Linked DNA regions of Homo sapiens: regions 1 and 2 are each linked to region 3. Evidence: fine-mapped expression QTL. A gene starts in region 3. Each other region holds a variant in brackets. All regions are shown on one strand. Distances are from middle to middle.

Region 1 (10,689 bases), 22 kb before region 3:
GTGACCCTGGACGAGTTATTTAACCTCTTTAAGCTTGTGTCTCTTCCTTATCTATAAAATGAGATGATACTGCCTTTCCTTATTATTTTAGAATTGTGGTAAACAGGAATGCTATAATGACATGAAAGCACTTCCTGAAACTGTGCAATTTTTTTTTGAGACAGAGTCTCACTCTGTCACCAGGCTGGAGTGCAATGGCACAATCTCAGCTCACTGCAACCTCCACCTCCTGGGTTCAAGCGATTCTCCTGCCTCAGCCTCCCGAGTAGCTGGGACTACAGGCATGCACCACCATGCCCAGCTATTTTTTGTATTTTTAGTAGAAACGGGGTTTCACCATGTTGGCCAGGATGTTCTTGAAACTGTGGAATATTTAACTAAAGCTATTAAAATATTATTTAAAGAGAGGGAGAACTTTTTTATCTAGATTACCATTGTTGTGGAGAGTGTTGTTTGCTTCAGCTCAAGAACACTTTTATATAAATCCCTGATGATTCTCCATTCTCTGATGTCATCTTTAAAGCCATAAGAAAGGACAGACCCACAGCCTACCTTCACACATTGGTGGGGAGTCTGTCCAGCGTCCCGATCGAGTACAATCCAATCTTTCTGGTCCAGACAAAGAATATCCCTCGTCACAGATGAATTGACATGTGGATTTATAACTGGAACTTCCAAGAGGTTGAACACAGGTCATTGTTCCATTCTGAGGGCTTAGCAAAGGTGTGCAGGGAATGGCTATCATGGGCATGGCAGAGGAGAAAAGAAGAGATCATTTTATAATTCAGCAACCTGAACTCTGTAACTCTCTCTCTCTTTCTCCCTCTCTCTCTCTGTGTGTGTGTGTGTGTGTGTGTGTGTGTGTGTGTGTGTGTGATTAATATACAACGATGGTATTTGGCTAAAAGTGATTGTTTGAATTTCATGATGCTTCATCACCAGTTAGAGATTGTAGAGGTGTAAAATAGCAGCAGCTTACAGTTGATTGACATCCTGAAGTGCTCAATCACAAACAGCTTTAGAGGTGATTTTTAAAGGAAGCTGGTGCTCTGTTTGGGAGGATAGTGGTGCAACTCATTTTTGTTGCTTCTAGACAGGGGTGGAACTGGTTTCTCCCTTGATACCTTCTTCAGAAACACCCCAATGACCTTACCAGAAAACAATGACAAATGATTGGAAACACAGAAATGGAGGAAAATACTTTCTTCCCCCTTTCCCAACCAAGTGGTGGAATCTGCGCCCAAATTTTGGCTCTGTTACTTGCTAGCAATCTATCACTAGACAATAACCTTTCTGAGCCTCAGTTGCTTTATCTTCGAAATGGGAAAAAGGAAAATCCTTGCATATGTGCCACATTTTCTTAATCCAGTCCATCATTGTTGGACATTTGGGTTGGTTCCAAGTCTTTGCTATTTTGAATAGTGCCGCAATAAACATACCTGTGCATGTGTCTTGGTAGCAACATGATTTATAATCCTTTGGGTATATACCCAGTCATGGGATGGCTAGGTCAAATGGCATTTCTAGTTCCAGATCCCTGAGGAATTGCCACACTGACTTCCACCATGGTTGAACTAGTTTACAGTCCCACCAACAGTGTAAAAGTGTTCCTATTTCTCCACATCCTCTCCAGCACCTGTTGTTTCCTGACTTTTTAATGATCGCCATTCTAACTGGTGTGAGATGGTATCTCATTGTGGTTTTGATTTGCATTTCTCTGATGGCCAGTGATGATGAGCATTTTTTCATGTGTCTTTTGGCTGCATAAATGTCTTCTTTTGAGAAGTGTCTGTTCATATCCTTTGCCCACTTTTTGATGGGGTTGTTTGTTTTTTTCTTGTAAATTTGTTTGAGTTCATTGTAGATTCTGGATATTAGCCCTTTGTCAGATGAGTAGATTGCAAAAATGTTCTCCCATTCTGTAGGTTGCCTGTTCACTCTGATGGTAGTTTCTTTTGCTGTGCAGAAGCTCTTTAGTTTAATTAGATCCCATTTGTCAATTTTGGCTTTTATTGCCATTGCTTTTGGTGTTTTAGACATGAAGTCCTTGCTCCTAGGGTCATTTTTCAGCCACTGACTTAAACAGCATGAGGTTTCAAGAACACTTTCTACGCCTTTCTCTTCCCTTCATTCCTTCCCCTCTCTAGCTACATTCCTTTCAATCTGATCAACTTGTCCAAAGATCTGGTTCTTTTCTTCTAGTTGAAAAGTATTTCTGTAGTAAGTGTGTATGTGGGGCTGGAGAGGACACAACTCAAGAAGCCTATAAACTGCAAGGACTTATGGGGGAAAGGGTGTGGGTGAGGATGTTGGTACCACAGAACCCATTTCCAGCTCTTCTGTGGCTTTGCCTTCTGACAGCAGGGGTAGATGTGGAGGGGTGGGAGGACATTAAAAAGGGAAATTGTCTGATAACACTCTCTCAGAAGTATTACAACAGCGAGTGGATTGCACACTGCATGGTACCTTCCTGCCCAGCCCACATTTGGGTATTTCACTTGATGTGCACCCAGCAACAAGAGGAGAAAGTTCAGAGTAAATAAAGAACTAAAAGCAGAAGGGAACTGGAAGGTCACAGGAAGCCGTGGTGAGTGGCAACCTCCTTGCTGTGAAACACCCAGAGGCAGGACAGTATGGAGCAATGAACTGTAATCTGTGCCCTGCACCACCCAGGCTTGCCTGTAAGAGTTTCAATCACTGTGATCACTGTCCTCAGGGATTCCCAGTTCTTCCCACAACTTCCCCAAAGTTGTGTGGACTTTGTGATATGTCCAGACTTCAACGTAGCCAGGATGAGCACTTAAGGGGCAAGGTCACAGCCCCGCCCTGTTCTCTCCAGACCCAGCTCTGAAGGTGCACCCAACCCTAAGTCCAGGGGCTTGCCATCCTCTCTGGTGCCTGGCGATGAAGGACATTCAATTCTGCTGTTTGCTTGTCCATTTGTTCATTCATTCATTCATTCATTCATTCATTCATTTACTGTTGACCTAGCTTAACAATGGGGTGTGTGTGTGGGGGGTGTGTGTGTGTGTATGTGATTATGCTTTTGTGTGACCTGAATAGTGAGTGGTTTCCTTTTAGTAAAAAATATGTATCTGCCCACTTTCACTCAAATGTTGAAAGTCTATACAAAGTGAAAGGTATGGCAAATAATGTAGAACTGTCTAGTCTTTTACCCATTCAACTTTATTGTTAAAATTGTATATACATCATAAAAATATTAATTGCATAGGAGGAAAAGCGGAGAAAATATTGGAAGAATTCATACCAGAAGCCTAACAGTGTCTATTTTAGGATAGGAGTATTTAAGAGGATATTTCTTCATTTCTTTATTATATTTCTGCAGATTTTTATAAATGAAAATCTTGCGTTTAAAAAGCAGCATTGTCTATAAAAGTTAACTAAGGAATTGGATACATTGAGGGGGAAAAAGCTTGGGGAATATAAAAAATATACGTCTATCCTTCAATTCACAAACATGGATGACTAGAACCCGTTCAAGTTCATACAAGATGTTGCAATACTGACAGAGCACACTGGCTTGTTAAATATCAAGTACAAGGCCGGGAGCAGTGGCTCACACCTGTAATACCAGCACTGTGGGAGGCCGAGTCAGGCAGATCACCTGAGGTCAGGAGTTTGAGACCAGCCTAGCTAAGATGGTGAAACCTCATCTCTACCAAAAATACAAAAATTAGCTGGGTGCAGTGGTGGGCACCTGTAGTCCCAGCTACTCGGGAAGCTGAGACAGGAGAATTGCTTGAACCCGGGAGGCGGAGGTTGCAGTGGGCCGAGATTGTGCCATTACACTCCAGCCTGGGCGACAGAGTGAGACTCCGTCTCAAAAAATGTATGTATATCAAGTACAATGCAGATAGAATGTTTATACTGAATCCACACATTTCTTTCTTCTGAGAATCCCGTAACCTCCAGTATACAGATTAGTTTTTCTCTTTTTTCTATCACTCTTCACCTTATTCTAAGTCTATTTCTCCAATTTTATACAGATCTTGGAGTGTTTGCAACTGGGTACTTGTAAATTCTGCCCCTCCCATTTTACCATTATACCCTGTGGTTCCTAGAAGTGCCAGACCAGCCTTGGGACAACCACTCTGAAGCAATTTTTTTCCCACCTGGTCTTCTTTCCAGATGCCATGTTTGGCCAGGTGAGAAGAGTTTACCTGGTTTGTGGCAGGAGCCTTCAGGTCTGGGTAAAGACCCTGATAAGGAGTTAGCAAGGGCCATGCCCTACTGTCTATGGCCAGACATCCTGACACTTGTGTAATCTGCCTATCCCCCGGAGGCATTTGCATTTGGGATCCTTGGGTTATAGGACAAGAGGATGAGTGAGAGTATTTATGAATTTTCCAGTCCATTTCAAGGTGGATCTTACATAGTTGTCACCTCTAAAATCCAGCCTTTAAAAATACTGCCTACAATTTATTTCCATGATGTTAGAAAGAATACACTCTTACCTTGGCATTCTGGAGGAACAGAATTCCAGTTTCCAGTAGCCAAGCACTGTAGCACACTTGCTCCCACCAGGAGCAAGCCTTCATTGCAGGTGAAGCTGCAGACTGACTGGTACCTAAAGGCACCGAAGGGGTGGGAGCAGTTCACCCGGGCCTCATTTGGAACTGGGAGATCCTGGCACTGCAAAGCTAAGGGATGAGGAAGTAAGGAATAAAGAAACAGTAATACACATGTACTCATTGATTTTTGACCATTAACTCTTTCTAGTGTCAAGAACAGGGATTCCTGAATTGGGCTTGTTTAACATAGAAGATAAGAAAAAGTGTCATTTAATTATAACGGCACATGAAGGATTTTATTAGGAAATGCTAAACCTTTGTTGAGCATCTTGGCAACATGTGTCAATAATTTTTAAGTTATCATGCTTTTGGACCCAAGAATTTATGCTAAGTATGTAATCAAGATGCATACCAAAAAATCTATTTAGAGATTTTTGTGAAGACATTATTTGTAAGAGCGGAATATTGAAAACAAACACAAATGCCATTAATTGAGGGTGGAAATTAATGATGGTGGATCCATGAAAAGAATGTTAAAGGTCACTAAAAATAATATATTTTAACTTGTAAAGATAGGAGAGAGGTCTCAATGTATGATGTTAAATAAAAAATCAGAGTAAAAATTATAATATACACCATGATCTCAAAGATGTAAAATAAATAACCATATACGAAGAGAGCACACATATTCCATGTGTTGTCTCTTCTCATCTTTAAAATGGTAGTAATAATTGTAACTACCTCATAGAGTTAGACTGAGATCATAGAAAGTGCTCAATGAACATTAGCTGCTATATTAGTAGCAGTGGTAGTAATAGATAGTAATAATATCATTAAGGCTTTGCGTCACATGCAGACACTGAGTTCAGGAGTGGGAAACATTCAGAAGGCCTATGAAGGGGGTTAGTGAGACCACATCTCTGGATACTTAAGAGAATATCCAACTATCTTTTCTTGATTAGACATTTACCTTCCTGGAGACAACAATGGCTTGAATAATCCCTTATGATCCGTTTTAAGTGTGTCAAAGAGCTCATTGTGTCTTTTTCTCCCAGATAACATATACAATACATTCCATAACTCAGACTA[A/G]GTGTCAGCATCATGGTGTATAGCCATCTATTCTATTGCCTTCTTGTTTTTTCTTTTTTTTTTTTTTTGCTGTTCAATTTTTTATTATAGTGAGATATACGTAGCATGAAATTTAATTTACCATTTACCATGTCACCAATATCAAGTGTACAGTTCAGTGGTATTAAGCACATTCATATTATTGTGCCACCATCACCATTATTCATCTCCAAAACTCTTTTCATCATCTCAAACTGAAACTCCGTATCCATTAAACCATAACTCCCTATTTCCCTCTTCCGCCGAGCCCTTGGCAACCTCCGTTCTACTTTCTGTCTCTATGACTTTGACTACTCTAAGTTCCTCATATGAGTGGAATCATACAGTATTTGTCCTTTCATAGTGGCTTATTTCACTTAGCATAATGTCTTCAAGGTTCATTCATGTTTGTAGCAGAGGTCAGAATTTACTTCCTCTTTAAGGTTGAATAATATTCCACTGTAAGTATGTGGAATACTTTTTACTTATCCTTTCATCCATTGATGGGTGTTTGGGTTGCTTCCACATTTTAACTGTTGTGATTAATAGTGCTATGAACATGGGTGCACAAATATCTCTTCAAGACCTGCTTTCAAACCACTGCCTCATTTTAAAATCAAGGTATACTTAGGAACCCAGAGGAGTCACATAGATTGCTCAGAGGTCTCCGTAAATGAAAACACAAAATGTCAATATTACACTTCTGGAACATGACTTTAGTGTGAGGTACTCCTCGTAAAAAAAATAATAATCCTTGTGAACCACCACACCCGCCCCCCATGAGTGCCTTAGTATAAGAGCAAAAGATTAGAAACCTAACATATTGAAAGAGGATCATTTTGTCAAATCAGACCACAGACATGTGATTTATAAGGTAACATGTCATCATCATCATTTTCCCTATAAATCCTATAAGAGTTTTAAAGTTGCGTTTACACACATTAATTCACAACTACTAGTGAGGCAGGTAGGTAAGGCTGATAATAGTAGCCCCATTTTACAGAAGATACTGAGCCTCAGAGAGTCTAAACCACTAGCTTAAGGACAGGAAGTGACAGGACTGAGCTAAACACCTTGTCCATTACCCTTCCCCATCCCATGCTATTCCTCATGCATGATTTATTCCCCCAAGCCCCATCTTCTTCATTCCAATGCACCCTATATGTGTCAATCAGTGCAAACCTCACCTTGACTATACTATAGTGGACATGTGCCTAAGACTGGCTTCACGCACCGTTTCATCTCATCCCTGGTCCCAAGCACAAAGGACATGGCCCATAGTAGGTTCTCAGTGAATATCTGATAAAGAAAGGCATGCCAATGCTCAGTGCAGATGCTGATGCCTCTAACGAGCTGAGACACACAGAAAAACATTACCACTGTTACAGTACCTTGACAGACTGGGGCTGGTGCTGTCCACTGTCCCAAGTTATCACACCGAACTATATCGGCTCCTCTCAGCATGAAACCTTCAGCACAGCGGAAGCTACAGTTGGTGTCATACTGAAACGCTCTCAAGGATGGAGAGCAATCCATGCTTCCGTGGACAGGACTCTCCAGCGGCTCACACGAAATAGCTAAGTGGAAAAGGTATCTTCTAAAGCCAGGTAATGGAAGGGCCGGGTTCTTCCTCAGAAAAAATTCCTAGATGCTATATCTTTCCTGTCCACATTTTCAGTGTGTTCAGAACCCTAAAACCTCCATTTTCCAAAAGAGAGACTGCCTGGAACACCTTCCCATGCCCCTCTTGGCCTGACTCACTCTCACCTGCCCTTCAGGTCTCAGCTTAGACTTCCCTTTCCTTAGGAAGCCCTCCCTTCCCACCTTAACTAAGGGTAGAAGCCCCTGCAATGTGCTCCCACAGCCTCTGTTCTTGCGCTGTTCATACATGATTGTCATTCTTCCCCATTATACCGTGGTCTCCTCGAAGTTGGGCTCAGTCATTCATAGTTTTATTCTGGAGCTGAGCAGAGTGTTTTGTACATTGAAAGTGCTCATTAAATATTGACATTATCTGTGAAATTGAACCTGAAAAGAGTATATACAGGAAAATGCTGGACTTATAGGGAAAAAAAAAAAAGCTGGACTAGCATAGCTTATTGTTGACACTGTTACCTAGTCCTGTAAAATGATCCTGACCGGGCTTTGTCTCTAGAACACAGGATGTCATCCTAATCAGACTTCAGTTGCCAAGTGAGTGCAGCCAAAGTGAATTCCTGAGCACAATTAAGCCCTGAGTGACCTCAGTTCTGATAAAGATTGGTTTCCTCATGCTCTTCCTTGATAAAGCATTTCATTTCCAGGCTATTTCTGAAACTTTTCAAAGTGTAAAGACTACCTCTTTGCTCTGGGCTTTGACCTCTGGTTTTTACAGACTCAGAGCATTTAAGAACCAAAAATCCGGCTGAGCACAATGGCTCACACCTATAATCCCAGCACTTTGAGAGGCTGATGTGAGTGAATCACTTGAGGTCGGGAGTTTGAGACCAGCCTGGCCAAAGTGGTGAAACCCTAGTCTCTATTAAAAATACAAAAAGTTGCCTGTAATCCTAGCTATTCGGGAGGCTGAGGCAGGAGAATCGTTTGAACCTGGGAGGCAGAGGTTGCAGTGAGCTGAGATCGTGCCACTGCACTTCAGCCTGGGCGACAGAGTGAGACTCTGTCTCAAAACAAACAAACAAACAAACAAACAAACAAACAAACAAAAACACCAAAATCCTCTAGTGTTTCTCTCTTCTCTCTTATGTTTTAGGCAAGAAAAGTGAGGTTCAGAAGTGTTAAGTGACTTCTCTAAAGTCTCATAGCTAGATAGTAGCAGGGTTGGGCTTGTCATCCAGGTCTGGGAATTCACTAATCTATCGTAAATTTCCTATTCTCCCATTACCACTGTCCGCCTTATAAACTGAGGGTGTGAGGCAATTGCAGAGAATTCATTTTGGCGGAATTATGTAATTGCCTGGGATTGCATCACACACTTTTTCGATGCAGTGTTCCTTCCTTTGCTTCTTTGTCAAAGGCTACCCTCAAAGACTACATGGTGAACCACTCTCTTTAGCCACCTTAGCCGCTGCTCCCAACTCCCTCTCAAGTATAGGACATGGTCCTATACCTCGGATATGTCAGTAGAGCAGAAGCTCTATGCTAGGTACTTTATACATGCTATTTAATTGTATACTTTTTATGTACTTAATCCTCACAAGCACCTTGCAATTCTTAGCTCCATTTCACAGATGAGAAAACCATGGTTCCTGGAGGTTGAAGAGCTTGCTCTAGTGCAAGAACTTAGAAGAGATCACCCCGACACTGAGAGCCCTTGGCCTCTCTACCATGCCATGATTCCTTCTTGGACAGAATGGAGGTTGCTAATGAAAAATCCTACCCTCACAGGTTGGCAAGGGTGCAGACCAGTGTCCAGAGTCAATGCAGCGGAGCATGTCCAAGCCCCTCACTCTGTAGCCGGGCTGGCACTCAAATTTACAGCTGGAGCCATAGGCAAAAGCAGTGAGCGGATGAACACAGTCCATGGTTCCTTCACTGGGGGCTTCCAGGTGCTGACACTGCACAGCTGGAGAGAATAACCAAGGATAAAGAGAAAGATACTGAGAAAGGAGAAAAGCCACACAGAGAGCAATGGTGGAACCACCTCTGAAATGCAGGTGGAGCTAGCAAGATGTAAAGGTCAAGAGACCCTAATGATGTTTGTCCAGACTTGGATTACCAGTTCCCAGGGTGATCTGAGTCTGTTAAAAACAAAGATTCCTCCAAGCTGTATTCTTAATGTCCTCTATTCCCTATACTTCTATAAACCTGTCTCAGTAGGTCTTCTAGTGTCCACTTATAGATGTAGAGGCCACCCTTTCTAATCTTATGGGGAAATTATGAATGAGGCCATTCTGAAACTGCCTGCATTTGTGTTTGGGGAAAGAAAGGAATTTTTTTCCTTTCTCATCTCAGATGAACCCAATCTAGCTGAATGGCAGGTAGGAAGAGAATTAAATTTTGGCAATTCAGGCCAGCTTCTCCATAAGCTGGTCAATTTCATCTATGCACTAAGTAAGGACTGGGTGCAATGGACATTATACATCCCAACTACCTGAAACTCACCTTTACACACTGGGGCTGGGGCTGTCCATACCCCCGAGGCTGTGCATTGCACCACTTCCGGTCCAACTAATGCAAATCCCTCTTCACAACTGAAGCTGCAGCTAGACTGATGCTGGAATGCTTTTGCAGAATGAAGGCAGGTCATGTTTCCTCGTTCAGGAATCTTCAGGGGTGGGCACTGGGCAGCTAAAACCAACCACAGAATAATAGTGTGAGTCCTTGGACAAATTTTGTCCATCACCTTGGAAGCCTTCAAATTCTGCAGCAGTCACACCTTCCCAAAGTGGCAGGCAGGTTGATGCACTAGAATGGTTAAATGGTGTTTTCAATAGCTGCTTGGAAAGATCAAACACCCTTGTTTTTCATGTAGAGAAGTTAGGTAAAATTATCAAATTAATAATTCTTAACCCCTAAGTCCTCATCATTGTACTCTGTTTACTTTACAATTAACAAAGGGAAAGAGGGGTCCCTTTGTAATGTTTTTGCCTGCGAATCAACAATTAAACTGACTAAGTCACTCTACCCATAAAAAAATACCATGAAAATTGAAATTAATGTTACTCTGGTTGACAGTTAACAGTGATAACCAGAGTTTTCCATCTAACCTAGATGGTCATTATTTCTCACATTTTTTAATGGAGAAAGCTCATTGTGTCCTCTTCTCCCCCAAAATTCTATGTCAGTGAGGATGAAAAGAATAAGGTCTACATACCTAAACACTGTGGAGGCTTATTTGTCCAGATTCCAGAAGCCAAGCATTCCAGCTTGCTGGGCCCATTTACTTGGTACCCGTCAGTGCAGTGGAAGCTGCACTGCGAGTTAAAAGAGAAGTTTCCCAGAGGGTGGCTGCAGTTCATGAGCACGTGTTGAGGGAGCTCAAGTTCTCCACACTCTCTCACTGCAGGAGACAAAATAGTGATTTTTATTTTCCATGTAGAATTAACAG
Region 2 (10,689 bases), 38 kb after region 3:
CGGGCTCACCAATCAGAAAGACATAATTTTTGCCCAAAGCCCCATCATAGTGGGGACTACCTGGAATTTTAGGATCCCTCCTCAGACTAATAGGCATAACAAAAGCTATTCCTGAAGCTAGGATATGGGGAGCCTCAGAAATTGTATCCTTCCTATTCATATAAGTGAGGACAAAAGGTGTCACTCTTCCAACCCTGGAGATCACTTCCCTCCCTCAGGGTATGGCCCTCCACTTCATTTTTGGGGCATAACATCTTTATAGGAAAGGGGTAAAGTCCCAATACTAACAGAAGAATGCTTAGGACTCTAACAGGTTTTTGAGAATGCGTCAGTAAGGGCCACTAAAGCCGATTTTTCTCGGTTGGTCCTCCTTGTGGTCTAGGAGGACAGGCAAGGGTGCAGGTTTTCGAGAATGTGTTGGTAAGGGCCACTAAATCCGACCTTCCTCAGTTCTCCATGTGGTCTGGGAGGAAAACTAGTGTTTCTGCTGCTGCGTCGGTGAGCACAACTATTCCGATCAGCAGGGTCCAGGGACTGTTGCGGGTTCTTGGGCAGGGGTTGTTTCTGCTGCTGCGTCGGTGAGCACAACTATTCTGATCAGCAGGGTCCAGGGACTGTTGCAGGTTCTTGGGCAGGGGGAAAAACAAAATAAACCAAAACCATGGGCGGTTTTGTCTTTCAGATGGGAAACACTCAGGCATCAACAGGCTCACCCTTGAAATGCATCCTAAGCCACTGGGACCAATTTGACCCACAAACCCTGAAAAAGAGGTGGCTCATTTTTTTTCTGCACTACGGCTTGACCCCAATATTCTCTTTCTGATGGGGAAAAATGGCCACCTGAGGGAAGTACAAATTACAATACTATCCTGCAGCTTGACCTTTTCTGTGAGAGGGAAAGCAAATGGAATGAAATACCTTATGTCCAAGCTTTCTTTTCATTGAGGGAGAATACACAACTATGCAAAGCTTGCAATTTATGTCCCACAGGAGGACCTCTCAGCTTACCCCCATATCCCAGCCTCCCTATAGCTCCCCTTCCTATTAATAATAATCCTCCTCTAATCTCCCCTGCCGGAAGGAAACAAGCAAAGAAATCTCCAAGGGACCACAAAAACCCCTGGGCTATCGGTTATGTCCCCTTCAAGCTGTAGGGGGAGGGGAATTTGGCCCAACCTGGGTACATGTCCCCTTCTCCCTCTCTGATTTAAAGCAGATCAAGGTAGACCTGGGGAAGTTTTCAGATGATCCTGATAGGTACGTAGATGTCCTACAGGGTCTAGGGCAAACCTTAGACCTTGCTTGGAGAGATGTCATGCTACTGTTAGATCAAACCCTGTCCTTTAATGAAAAGAATGCAGCTTTAGCTGCAGCCCGAGAGTTTGGAGATACCTGGTATCTTAGTCAAGTAAATGATAGAATGACAACCAAAGAAAGGGACAAATTCCCTACTGGTCAGCAAGCCATCCCCAGTATGGATCCCCACTGGGACCTTGACTCCGATCATGGGGACTGGAGTCATAAACATTTGTTGACCTATGTTCTAGAAGGACTAAGGAGAATTAGAAAAAAACTGATGAATTATTCAATGATGTCCACCATAACTCAGGGAAAGAAAGAAAAATCCCTCTTCCTTCCTTGAGCGGCTACGAGAGGCCTTAAGAAAATATACTCCCCTGTCACCCGAATCACTCAAGGGTCAATTGATTCTAAAAGATAAGTTTATTACCCAATCAGCTGCAGATATCAGGAGAAAGCTCCAAAAGCAAGCCCTGGGCCCTGAACAAAATCTAGAGGCATTATTAAACCTGGCAACCTCAGTATTCTATAATAGGGACCAAGAGAAAGAGGCCCAAAAGGAAAAGCGAGATCAGAGAAAGGCTGCAGCCTTAGTCATGGCCCTCAGATAAACAAACCTTGGTGGTTCAGAGAGGATAGAAAATGGAGCAGGCCAATCACCCGGTAGGGCTTGCTATCAGTGTGATTTACTAGGACACTTAAAAAGATTGTCCAATGAGAAACAAGCTGCCCCCTTGTCCATGTCCACTATGCTGAGGCAATCACTGGAAGGTGCACTGTGCCAGAGGATGAAGGTTCCCTGGGTCAGAAGCCCCCAACCAGATGATCCAACAACAGGACTGAGGGTGCCCGGGGCAAGCGCCAGCTCATGTCATCACCCTCACTGAGCCCCAGGTATGTTTCACCATTGAGGGCCATGAAATTGACTTCCTCCTGGGCACTGGCATGGCCTTCTCAGTGTTAATCTCATGTCCTGGATGACTGTCCTCAAGGTCCGTTACCATCCGAGGAATCCTGGGATAGCCTGTAACCAGGTACTTCTCCCACCTTCTCAGTTGTAATTGGGAGACTTTGCTCTTTTCACATGGCTTTCTTGTTATGCCTGAAAGTCCCGCACCCTTATTAGGGAGGGATATATTAGCCAAGGCTGGAGCTATTATCTACATGAATATGGGGAACAAGTTACCCATTTGTTGTCCCCTACTTGAGGAGGGAATCAACCCTGAAGTCTGGGCATTGGAAGGACAATTTGGAAGGGCAAAAAATGCCCGCCCAGTCCAAATCAGGTTAAAAGATCCCACCACTTTTCCTTATCAAAGGCAATATCCCTTAAGGCCTGAAGCTCATAAAGGATGACAGAATATTGTTAAACATTTGAAAGCTCAAGGCTTAGTAAGGAAATGCAGCAGTCCCTGCAACACCCCAATTCTAGGAGTACAAAAACCGAATGGTCAGTGGAGACTAGTGCAAGATCTTAGACTCATCAATGAGGCAGTAATTCCACTATATCCAGTTGTACCCAACCCCTATACCCTGCTCTCTGAAATACCAGAGAAGGCAGAATGGTTCATGGTTCTGGACCTCAAGGATGCCTTCTTCTGTATTCCCCTGCACTGTGATTCCCAGTTCCTCTTTGCTTTTGAGGATCCCACAGACCACATGTCCCAACTTACGTGGACGGTCTTGCCCCAAGGGTTTAGGGATAGCCCTCATCTGTTTGGTCAGGCACTGGCCCAAGATCTAGGCCACTTCTCAAGTCCAGGCACTCTGATCCTTCAATATGTGGATGATTTACTTTTGGCTACCAGTTCGGAAGCCTCGTGCCAGCAGGCTACTCTAGATCTCTTGAACTTTCTAGCTAATCAAGGGTACGAGGTGTCTAGGTCGAAGGCCCAGCTTTGCCTACCGCAGGTTAAATATCTAGGCCTAATCTTAGCCAAAGGGACCAGGGCCCTCAGCAAGGAACGAATACAGCCTATACTGGCTTATCGTCACCCTAAGACATTAAAACAGTTGAGGGGGTTCCTTGGAATTGCTAGCTTTTGCCGACTATGGATCCCCAGATAGTGAGATAGCCAGGCCCCTCTATACTCTAATCAAGGAAACCCAGAGGGCAAATACTCATCTAGTCGAATAGGAACCAGAGGCAGAAAGAGCCTTCAAAACCTTAAAACAGGCCCTAGTACAAGCTCCAGCTTTAAGCCTTCCCACAGGACAAAACTTCTCTTTATACGTCACAGAGAGAGCCGGGATAGCTCTTGGAGTCCTTACTCAGACTCGTGGGACAACCCCACAACCAGTGGCATAGCTAAGTAAGGAAATTGATGTAGTAGCAAAAGGCTAGCCTCACTGTTTAAGCATAGTTGCAGCAGTGGCCGTCTTAGTGTCAGAGGCTATCAAAATAATACAAGGAAAGGGTCTCACTGTCTGGACTACTCATGATGTAAATGGCATACGAGGTGCCAAAGGAAGTTTATGGCTATCAGACAACCACCTACTTAGATACCAGGCACTCCTCCTTGAGGGACCAGTGTTTCAAATACACACGTGTGTGGCCCTCAACCCTGCCACTTTTCTCCCAGAGGACGGGGAAACAATCGAGCATGACTGCCAACAAATTATAGTCCAGACTCACACCGCCTGAGATGAGCTCTTAGAAGTCCCCTTAACTAATCCTGACCTTTACCTATATACCAATGGAAGTTCATTTGTGGAGAATGGGATACGAAGGGCAGGTTACACCATAGTTAGTGATGTAACCATACTTGAGAGTAAGCCTCCTCCCCCAGGGACCAGTGCCCAGTTAGCAGAACTAGTGGCACTTACCCAAGCCTTAGAACTGGGAAAGGGAAAAAGAATAAACGTGTATACAGATAGCAAGTATGCTTATCTAATCCTATATGCCCATGCTGCAATATGGAAAGAGAGGGAGTTCCTAACCTCTGGGGGAACCCCCATCAAATACCACAAGGAAATTATAGAGTTATTGCACACAATGCAAAAACACAAGGGGGTGGCACTCTTACACTGCCAAAGCCATCAAAATGGGAAGAAGAGGGGAGAGCAGCAGCATAAGCGGCTGGCAGAGGCAGGGAAAGATCAGCAAGAAGGAAAGAGAGAAAGAGAAAGTCAGAGAAAGAGAGAGAGGAAGAAACAGAGAGAAAGAAAGAGACAGGAAGTCAAAGAGACAGAGAAGGAGACAGAGAGGAAGAAGTCAAAGAGAAAGAGAAAGAGAGACAAAGGAGAAGTCAAAGAGAAAGAGAAAGAGAGATGGAAGTAGTAAAGAAAAAAAAACAGTGTACCCTATTCCTTTAAAACCCAGGGTAAATGTCTATCTACCCAGCCAAGGCATATTCTACTTATGTGGATCTTCAACCCATATCTGCCTCTCAGACAGTTTGCAAGAAATAATGAAATCTATCCTTACTTTACAGTCCCAAATAGACTCTTTGGTAGCAGTGACTCTCCAAAAC[C/T]GCCAAGGCCTAGACCTCCTCACTGCTGAAAAAGGATGACTCTGCACCTTCTTAGGGCAAGAGTGTTGTTTTTACACTAACCAGTCAGGGATAGTACGAAATGCCGCCCGGTGTTTACAGGAAAAGGCTTCTGAAATCAGACATCTTTCAAACTCTTATACAAGCCTCTGGAGTTGGGCAACATGGCTTCTCCTCTTTCTAGGGGAGCAGTGGAGGGAGAGGTGCGGGCAGGAACCGGGGCTGCATGCGGTGCTTGTGGGCCAGCGCGAGTTCCAGGTGGCATGGGCTTGGTGGACCCCACACTCGGAGCGGCCGGCCGGCCCCACCGGCCCTGGGCAGTGAGGGGCTTAGCACCTGGGCCAGCAGCTGCTGTGCTCAATTTCTCGCCAGGCCTTAGCTGCCTTCCCACGGGGCAGGGCTTGGGACCTGCAGCCCACCATGCCTGAGCCTCCCCCAACTCCCTGGGCTCCTGTGCAGCCCGAGCCTCCCCGACGAGCGCTGCCCCCTGCTCCACGGCACACAGTCCCATCAACCACCCAAGGGCTGAGGAGTGCGGGCTCACGGCACGGGACCGGCAGCCAGCTCCACCAGCAGCCCCGGCGTGGGATCCACTGGGTGAAGCCAGCTGGGCTCCTGAGTCTGGTGGGGATGTGGAGAACCTTTATGTCTAGCTAAGGGATTGTAAATACACCAATCGGCACTCTGTATCTAGCTCAAGGTTTGTAAACACACCAATCAGCACCCTGTGTCTAGCTCAGGGTTTGTGAGTGCACCAGTCGACACTCTGTATCTAGCTGCTTTGGTGGGGCCTTGGAGAACCATTATGTCTAGCTAAGGGATTGTAAATACACCAGTCGGCACTCTATATCTAGCTCAAGGTTTGTAAACACACCAATCAGCACCCTGTGTCTAGCTCAGGGTTTGTGAATGCACCAATCGACACTCTGTATCTCGCTACTCTGGTGGTGACTTGGAGAACCTTTGTGTCGACACTCTGTATCTAGCTAATCTGGTGGGGACGTGGAGAACTTTTGTGTCTACCTCAGGGATTGTAAATGCACCAATCAGCGCCCTGTCAAAACAGACAACTTGGCTCTACCAATCAGCAGGATGTGGGTGGGGCCAGATAAGAGAATAAAAGCAGGCTGCATGAGCCAGCAGTGGCAACCCGCTTGGGTCCCCTTCCACGCTGTGGAAGCTTTGTTCTTTCACTGTTTGCAATAAATCTTGCTGCTGCTCACTCTTTGGGTCCACACTGCCTTTATGAGCTGTAACACTCACTGCGAAGGTCTGCAGCTTCACTCTTGAAGCCAGCAAGACTACGAACCCACTGGGAGGAACAAACAACTCCAGATGGGCCACCTTAAGAGCTGTAACACTCACCGAGAAGGTTTGCAGCTTCACTCCTGAGCCAGCGAGACCACGAACCCACCAGAAGGCTGAACACATCCGAACATCAGAAGGAACGAACTCCGGACACACCACCTTTAAGAACTGTAACACTCACCGCGAGGGTCCGCGGCTTCATTCTTGAAGTCAGTGAGACCAAGAACCCACCAATTCCGGACACAGTACCAAGACAGATATATAGACCAATGGAACAGAACAGAGCCCTCAGAAATAATACCACACATCTACAACCATCTGATCTTTGACAAACCTGACAAAAACAAGAAATGCAGAAAGGATTCCCTGTTTAATAAATGGTGTTGGGAAAACTGGCTAGCCATATGCAGAAAACTGAAACTGGATCCCTTCCTTACACCTTATACAAAAATTAACTCAAGATGGATTAAAGACTTAAATGTGAGACCTAAAACTATAAAAGCCCTAGAAGAAAACCTAGGCAATACCATTCAGGACATAGGCATGGGCAAAGACTTCATGACTAAAACACCAAACTCAGTGGCAACAAAAGCCAAAATTGACAAATTTGATATAATTAAACTAAAGAGCTTCTGCAGAACAAAAGAAACTATCATCAGAGTGAACAGGAAACCTACAGAGTGGGAGAAAGTTTTGCAATCTATCCATCTGACATAGGGCTAATATCCAGAATCTACAAGGAACTTCAAAAAATTTACAAGAAAAAATCAACCCCATCAAAAAGTGGACAAAGGATATGAACAGACAATTCTCAAAAGAAGACATTTATGTGGACAACAAATGTATGAAAAGAAGCTCATCATCACTGGTCATTAGAGAAATGCAAATCAAAACCACAATGAGATACCATCTCATGCCAGTTAGAATGGTGATCATTAAACAGTCAGGAAACAACAGATGCTGGAGAGGATGTGGAGAAATAGGAATGCTTTTACACTGTTGGTGGGAGTGTAAATTAGTTCAACCACTGTGGAAGACAGTGTGGCGATTCCTCAAGGATCTAGAACCAGAAATACCATTTGACCCAGCAATCCCATTACTAGGTATGTACCCAAAGGATTATAAATCATTCTACTATAGACACATGCACACATATGTTTATTGCAGCACTGTTCACAGCAGCAAAGACTTGGAACCAACCCAAATACCCATCAATGATAGACTGGATAAAGAAAATGTGGCACATATACACCATGGAATACTATGCAGCCATAAAAAATGATGAGTTCATGTCCTTTTCAGGGACTTGGATGAAGCTGGAAACCATCATTCTCAGCAAACTAACACAGGAACGGAAAACTAAACACCGCATGTTCTCACTCATAAGTGGGAGTTGAATAATGAGAACACATGGACACAGGGAGGGGAACATCATACACCAGGGCCTGTTGCGGGGTGGAGAGCTAGGGGAGGGATAGCATTAGGAGAAACACCTAATGTAGATGATAGGTTGATGGGTGCAGCAAACCACCATGGCATGTGTATACCTATTTAACAAACCTACACGTTCTGCACATGTATCACAGAACTTAAAGTGTAATTTTTTTAAAAAACATCACTTTTAGGTGGTATGTTATCTACTGATGAAGAGGAAGGCTATAATCACAAGCTCCTTAGTGAGCAATAGGGGGAGGGTATCTGATGGTATAGAAAGGAGAATGGGGTGGCACTAGAGACCAATTTAAACCACTTCACAATTGGGCCTGACCCCAGCTTTGGTTTGAAACCGAGGGCAGGAGCAGCCAGGCAGCAACGTCTTTTCCTGTCTTCAAGCACAGGAAATCAGTTAGATTGACCTGACATACTTGGATGATAAACAGTGGCAGGCTTTCCCAGGCAGCATTGTACTTCTTCCCCTGTTAACACCTCCCACTGTGGAAAAATCTAAACAAACTAGAATTAACAGGAATCCAACATCTTCTTTTCTATAGCGAAAAGTTTCCTTGCCTAACTCATTTAGGAGACTTTTTGGGAAGTTAGAAAGTTGGAAAAAGAAAAGCTTCACATCAGTGCATAGCTGTTTTTAACTTCTATGTGTTGAAAAAGCATATCTGATCAAAATTTTTACCTATTATGCATTTGATATATAAATAAGTATATAAATGCACACACAGACACAGCAATGATGGTGAACAGTCTTCATACAATTATATCACACACAGACACAGCAATGATGGTGAACAGTCTTCATACAATTATATGACACACAGACACAGCAATGATGGTGAACAGTCTTCATACAATTATATGGATGAATCTCATAAAATGCTGAGTTAAAGAAATCAGACCAAAGAACATATACTGAAAGATTCTCTCTATATACAAAGTTCAAAAATAGGTGGGACCAATTCATGGTGGTGTTAGAAATCAGAAGAGAGGCTACCTTTGTGGGGAGGGGACAGTTTAATGCCCAGAAGCGGTAAATAAGGAATCCTCTGGGGAGTGGTAATGATCTGGATGCTGGCTACAGGATGTGTTGGTTGTAAAAATGCATTTTTTTATATCTAGCTTTTTCCATGTGTATATTATACTTCAAAGAAGTTCAGTTAATAATTTCTCATGTCACTGTAGAGTAGCTCAGTTAGCCCCAGCAAGCCTCTGGCTTAATCTTGTTTTACCTTAAGCCATCAGTCATTTACAAGTAGGAAAATTCACAGGGAAAGTTAGAGTATAAAATCCAGAATGAAGGTTTACTGGGTAAGAGTCTCTCCATTTTCCAAAGCCCGTTTATTTCTTGATTCCAGTTCTTAAGAAGTCTCAGCATTGTGTCTTTTTCATGTATCTTACAAGAAGACAGCATGTGCTTCTAACACCTGATACATTGTATCTACCAGCACTTGGTAAACAGAAAAGAACCACATTTTTCTTGTAGGAGAAATTTGGTGCCTATTTCCTACCAGGCACCAATAAGTGGGACCAATAGGTGGGATTAAAGATACAGTAGAAAGTATTTAAAACTTGCCAGGGGGCAATAGTCTGAAAATAAGTAAATTGGTGCTATAGAATGGAAGTTACAGGCTTCTTTCTTTTTTCCCACAAGATCTGCTCCTTGAGCCCCTAGAGACTTTTCTGTCTGTTACTGTTTCTTCATTCCTCATCTGCAGAGCCAGCCCTGAGAAGTGCAGACCAAAGCCAGGGAAGGCTCTGCAAAGATGTACAAATGGAAGTCACCTTAATAACCTCTGACTGCTGCGCATAATACATTTCACTCAAAAGAGGGGTTAAACAATGGAACAGAATACAGAGGCCAGAAATAATGCTGAACACTGACAACCATCTGATCTTTGACAAAATCCACAAAAACAAGCAATGGAGAAAGGACTCCCTATTCCATAATGGTGCTGGGATAACTGTCTAGCTATATACAGAAGATTGAACCTGGGCCCCTTCCTTACATCATATACAAAAAATAACTCAAGATGGAGTAAAGACTTAAATCTAAAACCAAACACTATAAAAACCCTGGAAGATAGCCTGGGAAATACCATTCTGGACATAGGACCTGGCAAAGACTTCATGACAAGACACCAAAAGCAATAGCAACAAAAACCAAATTGACTAATGAAACTAATGAAACTCTTTAGTTGTACAACAGATAGTTTATCTGTACAACAAAATAAACTATCAACAGAGTAAACAACCTACAGAATGGAAAAATTTTTTGCAAACTATGCATCTGACAAAGGTCTAATATCCAGAATCTATAAGGAATTTAAACAAATTTACAAGCAAAAAAATGACCTCATTAAAAAGTGGGCAAAGGACATGAACAGATGCTTTTCAAAATAAGACATTCACACATCCAACAACCATATGAAAAGATGTTTAACATCACTAATCATTAGAGGAATACAAATCAAAAGCATAATAAGATACCATCTAATACCAGTAGGAATGACTACTATTAAAAAGTCAGACAATAACAGATGCTGGTGAAGGTTGTGGAGAAAAGGGAATGTTTATGCACTGCTAGTGGGAATGTAAACTAGTTCAGCCATTGTGGAAGAGAGTGTGGTGATTCCTCAAAGAATGTAAAACCGAACTGCCTTTCAATCCAGCAATCCCATTATTGGATATACACCAAAAGGAATAGAAATTGTTTTACCGTAAAGGCGCATGCATGCATATGTTCATTACAGCACTATTTACGATAGCAAAGACATGGAATCGTCTAAATGCCCATCAGTGGTAGACTAGCTAAAAAAAAAAAAATGTGGTACATATACATCACAGAATAGTATGCAGCCATAAAAATGAACAAGATCATCATGTCCTTTGCAGCAACATGGATGTAGTTGGAGGCCATTATCCTAAGCAAATTAATGCAGGAACAGAAAGCCAAATACCACATGTTCTCATTTATAAGTGACAGCTAAATATTGAGTACACATGGACACAAAGAAGGGAACAATAGACATGGGACCTACTTGAGAATAGAGGGTGGGAGGAGGGTGAGGATCAAAAAGTACCCATAGGACACTGTGCTTATTACCTGGGTGATGAAATAATTTGCACACCAAACCCCTGTGAC
Region 3 (10,689 bases):
ACCTCGTCTCTACTAAAAATGCAAAAATTAGCCAGGCATAGTGGCACATGTCTGTAGTCCCAGCTACTTGGGAGGCTGAGGCAGGAGAATCGCTTGAACCCAGAAGGCAGAGGTGGCAGTGAGCCGAGACACTCCAGCCTTGGCAACAGAGTGAGACTCTTTCTCAAAAAACAAAACAAACAAACAAGCAAAAAAACTAATAATGATTGCAGGGTGAAGAGAAAAGCAGAGAGAAAGTGGAAGAAGCAAATGCCTTGACCTAACTTTTCACACAAGGAGGTACCAGAGGCTAGTAGGTGTCCCATGGCTTGCCACGTTCCAGGTGGCTTACAAAGTTGGCAAGAATAGTGCCACAGAAAGGAGATCTTGTTCTTTTTGTCTACATTGTAGACCACAGCTTTGTGCTTTTAGAAAGGCGGAATCAAACAATGTCCCTCCCTTGACCCTTTGTCCTCCTGCCCACATCTGCCTGTTTCTCTCCTTCCTCTTATAGCTAAACTTTCTTAACTTCCTTGCCTCCCCCTTACTCTCCAGCCCACTGCCCGACCATCCTATCAAAGTGTCCCTGCAAACTTCATTGCTGACATCCTCATTACCAAACCAAATGAAGACTTTCCACCCTTATCTTCCTTGACCTTTCTGTAGCAGTAAATACCACTACTTCCTTTTGCCTAAAATGCTTCCCTTAGCTCTTCTGTTGTTCTTCTGCTCTAATGTTTGAGAAACTTTTCTGAGTCTTCTTCTGAATCTACCTCAATCCTCTGCCTTCCCTTGCAGAGGTAAGTGTTTCTCTAGGTTCCCACCTCCATGGCCCTATTCTCTTCTCATTCTTCTGCTTTCCTGGGAAGTAAAGATGACCTCCTTATGGTCATCTGTTTCCAATGTCCTCTAATCAGCATCTCCGTTTCTGAATATTCTCTTGAGCAGGAGGTCCACAATTTAAATGCGCAACAAACATGTGAGCATACAGCTGAGGAAGCTACTGACAGAGGCTTCTCAAGGGCAAGGACTATTACTTACTCAGGTCTGAATCCCCAGCCATGGTAGGGCACATACTCAATACTCAATAAACATTTTATGGATAAATATATGAATGAATAATGGCAGAGGAATAACTGAAAGTAAGACAAAAATATGCTAAATAAGAAAATGTTGGAAAAATACATAATAATTATAACTGAATGCATTACTTTTACAGTAGTGATAATAGCTAAGTGAACAAATAAAATGGTGAAAACAGACATAATTCCAGTCCTCATAGAATGCACATTCTATTGGTAGAGAAGACAATGAAACAAATACTAATAACTACACAACAGTACTAAACAAGTAAACATGAAAAATATTAACAGAATATAGCCATAAGTGCTAGGTAGGAAATGAAACTTATGTGATAGAATGACTGTGTCACTATGTTGGTCAGGAACGTCAGGGAAGACCTCTTTAATGAGATAATGTTTAAGTGGAGAGAAGAATGACTGCAAGAAACCAGCCAGTGAGAAGCAGGAAGAAGAGCATTAAAGGAAGAAGAAAAAGCTATTTCAAAGGCCTTAAGGTGGAAGCAAACTGCAGTGTGTTCAAAGAACATGAAGACATTAGTGTGGCCAGAATGGAATGAGCAATGGAGAGAAAAATACGAGCCGGGGGTAGTGACAGATCACATCGGGCTTTGGGATCCAAAACAAGGGGATGAGATTTTATTCTAAGTGCAATGATAAGCCAACGGAAGCTGGGCACGGTGGCTCACATCTGTAATCCCAACACTTTATGAGGCCAAGGCAGGCAGATCCCTTGAGGTCAGAAGTTCAAGACCAGCCTTGCCAACATGGCGAAACCAACTCCACTAAAAAATACAAAAATTAGCTGGGCATGGTGGCGCATGCCTGTAATCCCAGCTACTCAGAAGGCTGAGACAGGAGAATCGCTTGAACCCAGGAGACAGAGGTTGCAGTGAGCTGAGATGGCACTACTGCACTCCAGCCTGCTGAAGATTGGGAGATCCTAGAGGTTAACTGAAAAGGTAGTTTGAGACCATATCTTGTGGGTCACAAATACCAGTTGGCAGAAGGGATACTTCTGAACAGAGAAGTATCATGAACACATGCACTTAATGGTGGTATGATTTTTTTTGTGGGGCTGGGGGACAGGGTCTTGCTCTGTTGCCCAGGCTGAAGTGCAGTGGCATGATCTGGGTTCACTGAAACCTCCACCTCCTGGCCTCAAGTGATCTTCCCATCTCAGCCTCCTGAGTAACTGGGACTACAGGCATGCATCACCACACCCGGCTAATTTTTTGTAGAGATAAGTTCTCACTATATTGCCCAGGCTGGCCTGGAGCCCCTGGGCTCAAGCAATACTTTTTCTTTGGCCTCCAAAAATGCTGATATTATAGGGGTGAGAGTAGTGCGATACTTTTTTTTTTTTAAATGAGTTACAATCAGGGAGATTGCACTGCAAAAGAAGAGGCTATTGCAATGGTCCCAGTGAGAGTTAAAGAGGGACAGGTTTGGTCTGGCATCAGTGGGAATGCAAATAGGGGAGGTGAATATGAGAGTTGTTGAGGATGCAGAACTATACAACTTGTTGGTAGCAAAGCCCAGATGTTACAAGCTATTACAGCTAATACATTAGTTCCCTTATGTTTCTGGACGGTGGTGGTGTTAGTGGTGTGGCACAGATATTGGTAGCCCAGCTTAGGGGTGGAAAAAGAAATACAGTGAGAAAAGAGGTTGTCTCTAAGCCAAAGAGCAAATTATGAATATAGACAAGAAGGGACCCAGGACATCAACACTTAGAATCCAAGCATATATTTAATTTAGACTACCAATTGCCATTATTTTGAGTAAAATATTAGCATTAAAAATAAAGTACGACACTTAAAATTTTTTAAAAAGTCTATTGGATCAGAGATGAGTTATATCTCTACAAATAGTGAGGATTTGCTCTGTATTTGACTTCATGAAGTTTCTGATTTACTTTTTAATCAAAAAGATTAGACACCTTGAAGACAATATAATGAATGTCATTTATAAAACCACTGTGTGCCTACTCTCTAGGTTTAGGTCCAGGGTTTTTTCTAAACACAGTTTTTTATGTAGTAAGTCATTTTGATTTTTGAGGATTTGATCAATAAGCTTCTACTTAAAGATCTCTGAAGATGCACATTCTAAGAGCTGGTGGCTAGCCCAGGAGAGTCTGAACTATTTTAGTTGCATTTTGAAAAACAGGTAATGAAAAGAAGAGTAAGGACTGGAAGCCACATAAGGTGGTTAAAAGGTATAAATGGACGAAAATCCAGACCTGCTCCTTAGCCCACTAAAACTTTTTTTTTGTTTTGTTTTTGAGACAAGTCTTGCTCTGTCACCCAGGCTGGAGTTCAGTGGTGTGATCTCAACTCACTGCCACCTCCACCTCCTGGGTTCAAGAGTTTGTCCTGCCTCAGCCTCCTGAGTAGCTGGGATTACAGGCACATGCCAACATGCCCAGCCAGTTTTTGTAAGTTTAGTAAATATGGTGTTTCACCATGTTGGCCAGGCTGCTCTTGAACTCTCGACTTCAAGTGATCTATGCGCCTCGGCCTCCCAAAGTGCTGGGATTACAGGCATGAGCCACTGAGCCCGGCCATAGCCCGCTAAAACTTTGACAAACATCAGTGCAATTTAACTATAAGTTCCCAATCAAGAGCTACTCCTCTGAGATCTATCTGATTGAAAATACCCCACCAGAAAAACCTTATCCTCATTTTCTCAGGTCCTAAAAGTTAATTAAAGCCACTCTCTGAACTTGAAGCAAAATTTACACAGGCAGTTTGAGGTTTCTGAATCTTTGGGGCCAAATGTGCTCAGAGGAAAAGGAAGAGGTCTTGTCTTTGAAATATTAAAAACCATTCCAGGGCTGGGGCCTTAGCACTTCGCTGTAGAGCTCAAGCCTAATTTCAGGGTACCAAGAGAGGGGCTTCTGAACATAAAGCCCAGGAGGCAATCGAGAAGGGTTCTTACCCTGGGATCCACATGGAGGTCTGGGAACCTCCTGTGGTTGTCTCTAAAGGTTGGTGTTTATGTCGATGTTTTTGCTTTCATCTGGGAAAGACAAGTTGTAACTTTCATCAAAATCTCAAAGAACTCTCTGATCCAATAAGTTCATACCTTTGAAATAGAGGAGGATGCCAAGGAGAGTAGAAGGAAGAGAGGAATAACTGCTCATTTAAGTTAACCAATTCAGAAGTATGACATGCAAAAAGACAGGACAAAAGTAATTCATATCCTTAGGTCATTGTGGTTCAAACTTAAGACAGGCTCAAACTCCTTCCTCTTCTCTTTATCATACTCTTATTCCTGTTTTCCCCAACACAGAAACCCACATTATAAGTACTTGAAAAGTGTGCTATAGTAAAGCAAAGCAGTAGGATGAATCAGGTGTATGCGGTACTTTTTTCTGGAGTCCCACAGAAAGGTGCTCAAAAACAGAGACCTGCCTGGTTCCTCCATAGCCACAGACTGCAGGATTTCGGACCCTGGGACTATGTGGGATACTCTTGGAAAGTCTGAGGAAAATTGGAAGTAGCTTAACCATGTGCATTTTATCTAGGTGCATATAACATTGCTGAGTTCAAAATGCCTAGCTATCCTTGGATCTTCCCTGAATTAGAAGTAGCCTAACCACGTGCATCTTATCCATGAGCATATAACATTGCTGAGTTCAAAATGCCTAGCTATCCTTGGATCTTCCCTGAATCCTAAACCCCACTATTCCTAAGAATTTTCTTTTTATTGTAACAATAATGGCTAACATTTACTAATCACTTACTATGTGTCAGGCTCAGATCTGGATGCTTTTCAGCAAAATCTTATTTAATCCTCATGATGAAACTATAGAGTATTATTACTATATCCATTTTATAGAAGAAGAAACTGAGTCATTAACAAGATTGAGTCTTAGGGCAGAAAAGGAAACTATGTGGATATTCCAGATCAGTCCCAGAAGATTCATAGGCTCACAGAAAGAAATGGGAGGGATGGGGATGAGAAACTATTCAATTGTAAGCTTGTCCCAGGGCACCTACCCAGTCTTCCATTTATTCCATCATTTATCCCAGAGAGAAGTACAGTCTTGGAAAATGGGGTGACAGGTTTACCATGATCTATTCTCAGAGAGCCCCTATAAATTCTAGTAGGAGGAACAGCAGCTGCGGAGCCAGAGGACAGGCCCCAGATCCCAACATCATGTAGCCTAACAGTGAAGCTTAGATAAAACACAGCCTCTGTAAACCACGATGGCTTTATTTGTAAAATAGAAATAGCAACCTCAACTCACAAGGGTGTTGGGAGGGTCAAAGTGGACAGCAAGTTTAAAAGTACTCACAAAATCTAATAGGCAATTCAACATAAAACTCCATGGCTATCGCTGTTCCTCACTTTCTGAACCTTTACCTGCCTGACTTTACTCCATACCACTCCAACTCACTTCAACCACTTCCCATGCAGAAAAAAATAAACTCACCATCTCCTCTGTGACTCTGCTGGTTTTCTGCCTTCTGCCCAACCCAGACTGCTTACAGTCTCACTGCCTCCCCTCAGTGTCAGGCTGTTTAGAAAAACAACTTCCTATTCACATTCCAGAAACTCACCACAGCCCTTCCCATGAAGTTAGAATGTTGATAATGCAAGAGTAATGTTGGCAGCTTAGAAATAGTGGTTGCCAAGAGGCAAGGGGTCACCCCCTTCCATGGAAGATGGTCTGGAGGCAGGCGCAAGGTGAATTACTCCTGGATATCCCAGGCTGAGCAATGTGGGAACAGTACACACACAAAGGTTTCCTTGGATTATGATATAAGCTCCAATTTAAAGTAGTACATTTGGAAAACATGCTTTGAATTAATTACAATGTGATTTTCCAGTGCCCATTTTCCAGTAATTATGACATGTCAGTGAATGTTTACTATTCCGGCAGCCTTCTGAGGGAAAGAAGCAAAATTAGTAGCACAAAAAAAAATAGAGAGAAATGGAAAAAGCCACTAACAGTTTTCTGGCGCTTGGGAAATTTTATTGGTAAGTTTCAAAATGACGTATTAAATAGACATAGGTCATGTGAAAGGAATTCTGCTTCTTATATCAGAAATAAAAAGGTATACAAATAGATACCTTTTTATTTTCCTCTTCCCATGGGATGTGTAGGACCAAAAAGCTGTTGGCATAGTGGTTAAGACTTCAGCTGTGCTGTTAAACTGCCCGAGACCCATCCTGGCTCCTCTTCTGGCTATCTACTGGGCAAACTACTTAAGCTCTCTATGCCTCTGTTTCCTCAACTGTAAAACAGAATAACAGAACTTGCCTCACCGGGTTGTTGTAGGATGAAATGAGTTAATATGTACAGAGTGATTGAAATGACACTTGGCCCACAATTGATGCTCAACAAATGTTAGTGATTATTATTACTTTTCAGATTGATCTCAGACAGCAAAATCAAGTATCAAGTATTTAGTTTCAAGTCAGAAAGCCATAACTCCTATTTATACTCTTGGAATTCTATTGTACAGTAGTAGGTATTATTCTTCATTCACTTCATGATGGTTACAGCTTGTAAATAGGCATCTCATGGATAAATTTAAAATGGAATGAAGTAGAAACATTGGAAGAAAGTCTAAAGGTAAAGATGAATTAGGGTATATAAGGCTGCATTTGCACGTTGGAATTTGGGACCAAGAAGAAAAAATTAATTATATAGTAGAAGTAGAAAAGATGGTGAAGGAAATGCTGTTGAAGGAATGACTGTAGGGGAATAAGGGAAACTTAGAGAGAGGAAAAAATGAGGAACTTCTTGGCAGCATGATGCAGTTCAGAGTCCAGACCCTAGAGTCAGACTGCCTGGCTCCACCACCTACCAGCTGTGTTGGGCGTTACTAATCTCCCTATAACTCAGTTTCCTCAGTGATGTGGTTTGGCTGTGTCCCCACCCAAATCTCATCTGGAATTGTAGCTCCCATAATTCCCACAGGTTGTGGGAGGCACCTGGTAGATCATTGAATCATGGGGGTGGTTTCCCCCATACTGTTCTCATGGTAGTGAATAAGTCGCATGAGAGCTGATGGTTTTATAAGGGGAAACCCCTTTTGTTTGGTTCTCATTTCTCTCTCTTCCCTGCTGCCATGTAAGACGTGTCTTTTGCTTTCTACCATGATTGTGAGGACTCCCCATCCACGTGGAACTGTGAGTCCATTAAACCTTTTTTTTTTTAATAAGTTATCCAGTCTCGGGTATGTCTCTATCAGCATCATGAGAACAGAATAATACACTCAGCAATGTGAATAATAAGGATAATAATCACCAAATACATAGACATGTAAGGACCATTAAATGAATTTAATGTGTTTGGAACAATACCTATCACGCTGTTAAGTGTAAGTTTAAGTGTTGGCTATTATTCTATAAGACTTGCCTCCATGTCTTTCTGTTCTTACTTTCACTCACCAGCCCCTCTTTTTGGCATTGCCTCATGTTAGAAAAAATATATATAGTCTCAGATGGGGATGAGGAAGTGTGGTATGTAGACTAGTAGGTTCTTTTTTTGAGACAGGGTCTCACTCTGCGGCCCAGGCTGGAGTGCAGTGGCATGATTACTGCTTGCTCCAGCCTTGACCTCCTGGGCTCAAGCAATTCTCCCACCTCAGCCTCCTGAGTAGCTGGGACTATAGATGTGTGCCATCACTACTGGCTAATTAAAAAAAAAAATCTCTAGAGATAGGGTCTCTCTATATTTCCCAGGCTGGTCTTGAATTCCTGGGCTCAAGTGATCCTTTCACCTCAGCCTCCCAAAATGTTGGGATTACAGGCATGAGCCACCATGCCCAGCCTGGTAGTTTCTTATTTATAATAAGTTTGATATTAATAAGTTCAATTGATCATATGTTTTTAAGTTTGATATTGTTAAATTTTAGTGAATATAAGGAAAGCATAAAAAGATTCCTATGCAGGTGACATTAGCAAGATGGTGGAGTAGGAGATGTCAGCCTTATGCCCCAACAAAAAAACAAACATAGACAGTTATACACAAACCAAAATAGCCCTCACAAGGGTGGGGAGTTGGGGGATGGGGCTCAAGAGCCTGTTAAAGAATTTGGAACAACACAATGGAGAAAAGAAAGAATATCCATGTAGAAGAATCACCGGTGAGACTGGCATATATGAGACACCAGGAGATAGCTACGAATAAAGAAATTTGTAGGCTATCTGTGTCAGTCATGTGACACAGAGCCACTGAGGCCCCCAGTGTCCTGCTCCACAGAGGACACTGGCATCTTTTATCCAACAGCCATTCCCATAGCAGGATGCTAAAAAGGGAAACACAGTTGCACTACCCCTCACACCCCCTCACCAAGAAGCAGCTATTGTTGCACTGCCCCAGGACTGGGGCCAGGGTTACCACCTCTCACAAGTCTATGTGTGTTCCTGATCCCCAAAAGTTGTGGCTGCTCTACAGATATTCACACTCTGGACTGTGGCTCTGTGGCTGCAGTGCACCTCCTCATGTCTCAGACACTGGAGTCACTGCTGTTGTGAACTAGATCTCACCCTGGGACCCCAAGCCAAGTTCTCTCTGTGAAAGTCTTTGCTCCAGACACTAGTTCAGCCACTGTAGAAAGGTAACCCATATTCTCAACTCCAGAGCTGCTGTAGTAATGTGCACACCTGCGCTCCAGACCCTGTCTCTGAGGCTGTACTACACACACCCACACCTCCAACACCAGAGCCACCACTATAGTGAGCTAGTGAACACCCTGGGTCCTAGAGTCAAGGTTTCTCTGTGCCTGTCCATGCTCTAGTCACCAGCTCAGCCACCAAGGAGAGCTAGCCCACACCCTGGATCCTGGAGCCACTGTAGCTCTGCGTATGCATGCAGTAAAGTCCCTGGCTCCTTAGCTGCTTTATAAGTACCTGCATTTTACACACCATTATCAATGTGATAGTAAGTATGCCTGTGCCTTGGGCACTGGTACCATTGCTACAATTGAATCTGGTGCTGTGGTCCCTCCATGCATGCCCATGCTTCAGGCCTTGGCTCTTGGCCACTCCATGGGCACTGTTCATCAGACACCAGTGTCACCACCACCAGGAGCAGGCCTGCAAGTTAGACCTAATTCCAAGAGGGATGTCCTCAGTCATGACTTCCCAGGTGGGGAAAAAAAGAGATATGGAGGACTTGTCACAATTGAAAACCTCAACAGCCTCATTGCCACTGTAGATACCCACAGTGTTGGCCTCTAAGGATCCCTGTAGTATTCACTAACACCAACCTCAGCTGACAGATCTGCATGGAGACCACACAGCTTTGCCCCTACTGAAGTCAGAACTTTTGCATCCCACCCAGCCAGCATCCTCGCATTATTCCACATAAGAAGGTATTTCTCCACCAAAGTCAGCCCATACAGCCTGAAATTGGGGCAGATCCACCAGATGCTCAGACAGCAGTGTAAGGCAGCAAGAAACATGAAAACCCAAATTAAAATATCACCACCTAAGAAACACAATAATTTCCCAGTAGCTGACCCAAAAGAAATGGAGTACTACAAATGGCCTGACAATGGATTCAAGATAATTGTTTTTAAAGAAGCTCAGTTACTTTGAAGCAAACACAGAGAAACAATTTGGTGAAATCAGAGAAACAATAAATGCACAACATAAGAAATGTAACAGAAAGATTGAAATCATAAAAGAAATTGGAGCTGAAAAATATAATGAATGAAGTGAGAAATGCAGTAGAAATCACCAGTAGCAGACTTGATCAAGCAGAAGAAAGAATCTGTGAACTGAAGACAGGTTTTTGAAAATATACAGTGAGAGGAGAAAAAAGAATGAAAAGAAATGATGAAAGCCTACAAGATTTATGGGACAGCATCAAGAGAGCTAACATTCAGCCAGACTCAGTGGCTCATGCCATAATCCCAGCGCTTTGGGAGGCCAAGGTGAGTGGATCACCTGAGGTCAGGAGTCAAGACCAGCCTGACCAACATGGTGAAACCCAGTCTCTACTAAAAATACAAAAAAATTAGCCAGGGATTGTGGCACATGCCTGTAATCCCAGCTACTGGGGAGACTGAGGCAGCAGAATCTCTTCAACCTAGAAGGCAAAGGTTGCAGTGAGCTGAGATCATGCCACTGCACTCCAGCCTGGGTGACAGAGTGAGACTGCATCTCAAAAAATAAAAACAAAAATTAAATTAAAAATTAAAAAAGAGAGCTAATGTTCACATTACAGTAGTTTAAGAAGGAGAAAATAGAGGAAAAGGGGGTCAGAAAGCATATTTAAAGATTGCTAGCTGAAAATTTCCCAAATCTGAAATAAAATATTAATATTCAGGTACAGGAAGCTTAAAAATCTCCAGTCAGGTTCAATCCAAAAAAGACTACACCAAGACATAATAATCAAACTATCAAAAATCAAAGACAAAGACAGGATCCTAAAATCAGCAAGAGAAAAGAAGCATATCACAGACAAGAATTGCAATAAGGCTATCACAAGATTTCTCAGCAGAATGCTTCTAGGCCCAGAGAGAGTGAGATGATATATTCAAAGTGTTGAAAGAGAAAAAACTGCCAACCAAGAGTCCCATCCTTCAGAAATAAAGAAGAGATAAAGACTTTCCCAAACAAATAAAAGCTGAGGTAGTTCATCAACACGAGACCTGCCTTACAA

Direction of the effects. Alleles are on the strand shown, and positions count from the first base shown. SD is a standard deviation of normalised expression in the study named. Not every link is listed here.
For the expression in neutrophils of the gene that starts at base 5,552 in region 3, allele C in region 2 goes with a higher level than allele T (large effect, 0.83 SD a copy in BLUEPRINT).

Evidence for each region. PIP is the estimated chance that this variant, and not a neighbour inherited with it, causes the effect.
Region 1: its variant is fine-mapped to the expression of SELP in blood mononuclear cells (TOPMed, PIP 0.94).
Region 2: its variant is fine-mapped to the expression of SELP in neutrophils (BLUEPRINT, PIP 0.95).

The regions. Positions count from the first base shown.
Region 1 is chr1:169,602,474-169,613,162 of GRCh38, forward strand. SELP (selectin P) reads right to left here. Exons shown (of 17, transcript NM_003005.4): 5 at 10,456-10,641; 6 at 9,744-9,929; 7 at 9,019-9,204; 8 at 7,031-7,216; 9 at 4,476-4,661; 10 at 553-738. Among named protein-coding and RNA genes, the nearest start is that of F5, 21 kb to the left of the region's middle. RefSeq lists an enhancer at 2,396-2,505. The variant A/G (reference allele first, on the strand shown) is at 5,622.
Region 2 is chr1:169,663,068-169,673,756 of GRCh38, forward strand. The region is part of intron 1 of LOC107985745 (a long non-coding RNA gene); the gene reads left to right. Among named protein-coding and RNA genes, the nearest start is that of SELP, 38 kb to the left of the region's middle. RefSeq lists an enhancer at 4,660-5,165. The variant C/T (reference allele first, on the strand shown) is at 4,773.
Region 3 is chr1:169,624,573-169,635,261 of GRCh38, forward strand. It overlaps SELP (selectin P), which reads right to left and starts at 5,552. Exons shown (of 17, transcript NM_003005.4): 1 at 5,500-5,552. The coding sequence starts at 5,502.